Regions from separate parts of the Homo sapiens genome. Here region 2 is linked to region 1. Evidence: fine-mapped expression QTL. A gene starts in region 1. The other region holds a variant in brackets. All regions are shown on one strand. Distances are from middle to middle. Region 1 holds the start of TP53I3 (tumor protein p53 inducible protein 3). Region 2 overlaps PFN4 (profilin family member 4).

Region 1 (2,913 bases):
GTCAGCTCCGGGACTCTCAGAGTGGAAAGAGTTAAGAGGTCTTTGGAGCCACAAAGACCTCAGCTTGAATCCCAGCTCTTCTGATTGCTAGTGTCACGGCCTTGGGCGTACTGCTTAACCTCACTGAACTTCAGTTTCCTTATCTGTAGAATTAAGATGGCGAACAGGGTAGCCTGGGGAGTAAGTGTGCCCACACCCCACAACAATGTTAGTTCCGCCCTCATCTGGAGGCCTGAGTGGCTATGGATTAGCTCGGGGTGGATTCTGCTTTACAAGTACTCCCCCTTGTTTTGCATGAACAAAGAGGGCGCCCTGGGTTTAGGTCTGGGAAGCCCCAGCGCAGCTGCCTGCTGGGTGTGGAGCGGTGCACGCCTTCACGTCTGGTCAATGTCCACTGAGTGCTGTTGAGAGGGAGGCTCTGGAGTCCCGCCCGCCCCGGCGCGGCTGAGCCCTGGGTACCTGCATTAAGTCCGCCCGGTTCAGGGCGCTGGCCGCCACCTTCAGGAGGACTTCACCCTCCCCCGGGCTCGGCTTGGCCACCTCCTTCACGTAGAGGTTTTCCGGTCCTCCCGGCTTGTCAAAGTGCACGGCTAACATATTGTCTGAGGACACAGGGCAGGGCAGGGCAGGACAGGACAGGGCAGGGCAGGGCAGGACAGGACAGGGCAGGGCAGGACAGGACAGGGCAGGGGCCGCTGTATCCTCGCGGAGCAGCCCAGCCTCAGGCTGGCACCGCAGCGCCCCCTGCCGGCCAGCGCCTCGCTGCCCTGGTCTGCCGCGGACCCGGCCTCCGCCCCGAGCTCCTGCCTGGGAAGTCCTCGGCCGCCTCCAGACCGATCCCACCCGGAACACAGATGGGAACGGCGGGAAGTGGGATGGCGGTACAGGGCTGGATGCGGCAGAGCAGGACAACGCCGAAGAGGATCAGGCAAATCACACTCCCTCTGAGTTGGAAGCCCCCAGCCCGACCCGGGTCCCCGGCGCCCGTATGAGTTACTTACTCCTGGCCCGGCTCCCCTCCCATGCACCAGGCGGCGCCGAGTGGTTCTGGCTCCTGCGGGTCCCGGTGACAAAGCCCGAGCCCCAGAGCCCCAGGACTGCCTCTGCCTCCACCGGAATGGACGGCTGGACCTGGGGTAGCCGGAGGGGTGGGGCTAAGCAGAACCACCCTCCCCCTCTTTCCTTTCCTCCTTCCCCCTTTAAAACGCAAAGTTAGAAGCAAGCAAATCAGATTTTCTTGTCCTTTTAGCCTCTGGAAAAGAGTCTTTCTCTCAGCTTGACAGAAAGTGCGATTCTAGCTCTCACTTCAAGGAGAGGAAACTTCCTTCTCTCTAGGGAACGAGACCCAACCTCTTGGCGGGCGGATTGGTCCATTTTCCAGGCATGGCCAGGCTTTTGGCACATTTATGTAACAGGCTGGCATCCCGCCCATCTTGAGCATGGGTGGGCAAGCTGGGTGCTGCTAAGAGAAGAGAAAGGAGCCGTTGGGAGTGGGGGTGGGGAAGGAAGGCAAAACGCAGTCCTGGGATCCTTATCACTCGCCTCCTCCTGACAGTCCTGGGGGAGAGGTTCAGCCCCAGGAGAAGGATGCTGGCGATTGGGTAAAAGCTGTATCCGTAAGCTACATGAAGGTTTCTCAATCTCGGCGCTATTGACATTTTGGACTAGCTAGTTCGTTATTGTAGGAGATCGTCCTGTGCATCGTAGGATGTTTAGCAGCATCCCTGGCCTCCCCCCACTACATATCCGTAGCACTCCTTGTAAATTCCTGTTTTAGTAAGAACCTCCCATCCTTGACATCTGATCACCCTCAATATCTCATCCTCCACCATCCCCCAAGTGATATCCGACCACCCTGGCCTGTCTTCAGTGAGAATCCTGTTAGGTCAGTTTAGATAGAATCCCCCTTACCCCTGATGCCTCTTACCAATTTTCCATCCACTGACCCCCTACACTGCTCCTTGGCTATACATTCCCACTTGTCCGTGATGCATTCAGAGTTGATCCCAACCTGTCTCCTCCACTGCAAGAACTCATTGCAGTGGTCCCTAAACCTGTAGCGATGGTGCTAAATAAAGTCTTCCTTAATGTGCTTTAACAAGTATCATTGAATAATTATTTCTTTAACACAACAGAGCAAAAGCCTATAGAGATGGAAATAATAAAATGATGGGACTTAAGGAAAAATTCAGGAGACCCTGCTATGAGAATAACAGGAATTTTAGGCCGGGCGCGGTGGCTCACGCCTGTAATCCCAGAACTTTGGGAGGCCAAGGCGGGCGGATCACGAGGTCAGGAGATCGAGACCATCCTGGCTAACACGGTGAAACCCCGTCTCTACTAAAAATACAAAAAATTAGCCGGGCGTGGTGGCGGGCGCCTGTAGTCCCAGCTATTCGGGAGGCTGAGGCAGGAGAATGGCGTGAACCCGGGAGGGGGAGCTTGCAGTGAGCCGAGATCGCACCACTGCACTCCAGCCTGGACGACAGAGTGAGACTCCGTCTCAAAAAAAAAAAAAAAAAAGGAATTTTAGAAGGAGGAAGAGGAATGGATGAAGAAGATTCAATAGTTAACCAAATAAAAGAATACAGTTTTCCTAAATTCTACCAGATTATACGGATTGAAAACATTCACTAAAGGATGGATTCATAAGAACAAAAATGCATGCCTATATTTTATAAAATTTCAGGTTCTAACAAGTGTGGAAAGAATAAGTTACTCACAATTGGTTAAAAAAAATGGCTTCCTTCTCTCCCTCCCTCCCTCCTTCCTTCCTTCCCTCCTTCCCCACCCCCTCTTTCTCTCTCTCTCTTTTTTGTAGTGTAGGGGTCTCATTATGTTGCCCAGGCTGGTCTCAAACTCCTGGACTCAAGCAATCCTCCTGCCTCAGCCTCCCAAAGTGCTAGGATTACA
Region 2 (2,913 bases), 35 kb after region 1:
CCTACAATTCTGAAATGGAGCCTCCTTCAAATCCTGACATCTGTTCAGGAAGGGTCCAATAATGCAAAATGCAATAAAATGAGGCATATCTGTACATAGGTATATAGTTTCTGTGATAAACTTAATTTCTCAATTGGCCCTTTAAGATTCAGCTCTCTGGCGCCTTCCCTGACTCTGCTAGGCCGAAGTAATTCATTGATTTATTCATCAAACATGTACTAATTGCCTACCCAACATCAGACACTGTGTTAGGTAATGGAGAAAAAGAAGGATTAAGACAAGACAAATGCCTTCCAGGGATTCACAATCTAGATAAACAAAGAACTGTAATGGGGATAATCATAAAGGTATGCATAAAATACATACCACAATGGATAGAAGCCTGAGATCTGACTTGGTTCTTTAATGATGATTAGGAATTTGCAGAATAGATGTGAGGGACAGGAAGGAAACAGAAAATATTTTAGGCAGATAGAACAGCATGTACAGAGGCATGGAAGGCAGAAGCTATATCTTAACCAGCTCTGCTTCCCTAATTTATCTAGGATAGTGCAGGGCACATGGTAAGTACCTCTGAATGTTTGTTGAATGAATGAATGAATGAATGAGTGGCTGCTTTTGTTACTAGAGGCTTCTGTTTCAAAGGAGTGTTTATGCAACTCCAGTAAACTTTTTAAAATTTAAATTTAGATTTTGAAAAATCTAAACACAAACACAATTTACCATTTATTAAGCTCAACTCTCACCGATATAATACCCAAGCTAGTTCTCTATGAGATCTTTATTCAAAAATGTATAGACACGGAGGGGGAATGCAGTATATACCAACAAAGTGGCTGCCTGACTCACAGTAATTCCTTTTCCTGTAAAATGTCTCTTTATATAGGGTAGACCCCCAGCAGCCACATCTCTGCCTTTTTACCCTGCTGTCTCCCCCCTCCCCTATCCTGCCCCACCTACATAGCTGACTGATACAGGGGTAAACCATATGACCTGAAACTTGCCAAATCAGGGTCCTAAGAGAAATTAAGGGGTATTATGGGAGGCTTGGCCATGATATCAGCCAGGAAAGGAAACAGTTTGCTATGAGACAGAACAAAGCTGACTCATTTAGAAGTCAAGACAGAATCCTAGCAGTGTTCCAGTCCCTGAATCTACCTTCCCCATGGCTCAGCTGCACCCTGTCCTTCCAGTGGCTATGTAAATAACCTCAGCATCCTTCCAATAAATTCCTCCTTTCTGCCCTAGCTGGTTTGAGTTGGATCTCTGTTACTCGTAGTCGGAAGACCCAACTAACATAGGGAATGAAGACAGGAACTAGGAGGCCAACTTACCCAGGCTCTCTGTGGCTTCCACACAGATGCTAGGATACATGCCCTCAGTGTAAGTTGCTACCAGAAGATACAGATGGGTCTTCAC[G/A]ACAACCACACCAGTGTTCTCCTGTATAAAGAATATAAGAGAATATTCTGCTCTTGGTTCTAATCACAGGACCAGTGGTCATGCTCCAGCTACGTTTTTCACCATTTCCTGATTTCCATATGTTTGGAATATATATGGAATATACATATTCCGTATATATTTTCCATATGTTTATATATCTGTTTTTGGACTGTCCACTCTTTTCCACCAATTTAGTTGCCTTTCCTCAAAAAGTTTCAGACTGTTATAATAATGGTAGATGGATTTTGAAAAAGTTCTGCAATTGATTATCATATACCCCATCCCAATTAGAACAACTGATGTAGGCCGGGTGCAGTGGCTCCCGCCTGTAATCCCAGCACTTTGGGAGGCCAAGGCAGAAAGATCACCTGAGGTTGGAAGTTTGAGACCAGCCTGGCCAACATGGTGAAACCCCATCTCTACTAAAAATACAAAAATTAGCCAGGCGTGGTGGCAGGCGCCTGTAACCCCAGCTACTCGGTAAGCTGAGGCAGGAGAATCTCTTGAACCCAGGAGGTGGAGGTTGCAGTGAGCCGAGATCGTGCCATTGCACTCCAGCCTGGGCGACAAAAGTGAAACTCGTCTCAAAAAAAAAAACAACAACAAAACAAAACAAAACAAAACAAAACTGATGTAATGGAAAGGTCGTACATTTTGGAATTGGACAGCTCTGGGCTTGAATTCTAGTGCCTCCTTTTCTGCTGCATGAGTAAGGGTTATTTAACCTTGTTAAGCCTCAGTGTCCTCATCTGTAAAATGAGATTATTTAGTTTATAATGTGGATGAAGCAGCATGCCTAACCCATAATATAGGGCATCCAATGAATGATTTTCATCTCTTTCATTCCTTATAAGCAACAGAGAGCTGATTTTTTTTAAAATTTTTTTTTTGAGATGGAATTTCGCTCTTGTTGCCCAAGCCGGAGTGCAATGGCACGATCTCGGCTCACTGCAACCTCTGCCTTCTGGATTCAAGAAATTCTCCTGCCTCAGCCTCCCAAGTAGCTGGGATTACAAGGGCGCACCACACCTGGCTAATTTTCTTGTATTTTTAGTAGAAACAGGGTTTCACCATGTTAGCTAGGCTGGTCTTGAACTCCTGACCTCAGCCTCCCAAAGTGCTGGGATTACAGGTGTGAGCCACTGTGCCTGGCCACTGAGAAATGTTTTAAGCACAGAAATGATTATCTCTTTTTTTTTTTTTTTTAAAGGAGGATGTAGAGTATGAAGGTGGGACTGTATTGGAAAGAGTTCAGGCAAGGCTCAGTTAATAGATTCTGGAATGAACATTTCTCAAAACCAGGCTCTTGATAGGACTTTCTTTCACATATGTCTTCCTGGCACTAGACTGCTATCTCAAGACAATGGCTCAAGACATTAATGGATTTAATCTGTTTTACAGAAAGGATCAGGCAGAGCAAGGAAATTTGGAGGCAAATTCTTTTCTTTTACTCAGCTCTCTTCAAATCTTGAG

The links. PIP is the estimated chance that this variant, and not a neighbour inherited with it, causes the effect.
Region 2: its variant is fine-mapped to the expression of TP53I3 in whole blood (INTERVAL, PIP 0.99).

Annotation. Positions count from the first base shown.
Region 1 is chr2:24,083,730-24,086,642 of GRCh38, forward strand. It overlaps TP53I3 (tumor protein p53 inducible protein 3), which reads right to left and starts at 1,105. Exons shown (of 5, transcript NM_004881.5): 1 at 460-1,105. The coding sequence starts at 597. It also overlaps a transcript of FAM228B not described here. RefSeq lists enhancers at 343-442, 593-642, 1,390-1,890 and a silencer at 653-832.
Region 2 is chr2:24,118,243-24,121,155 of GRCh38, forward strand. PFN4 (profilin family member 4) reads right to left here. Exons shown (of 5, transcript NM_199346.3): 4 at 1,335-1,440. It also overlaps a transcript of FAM228B not described here. Among named protein-coding and RNA genes, the nearest start is that of PFN4, 3.6 kb to the right of the region's middle. The variant G/A (reference allele first, on the strand shown) is at 1,420.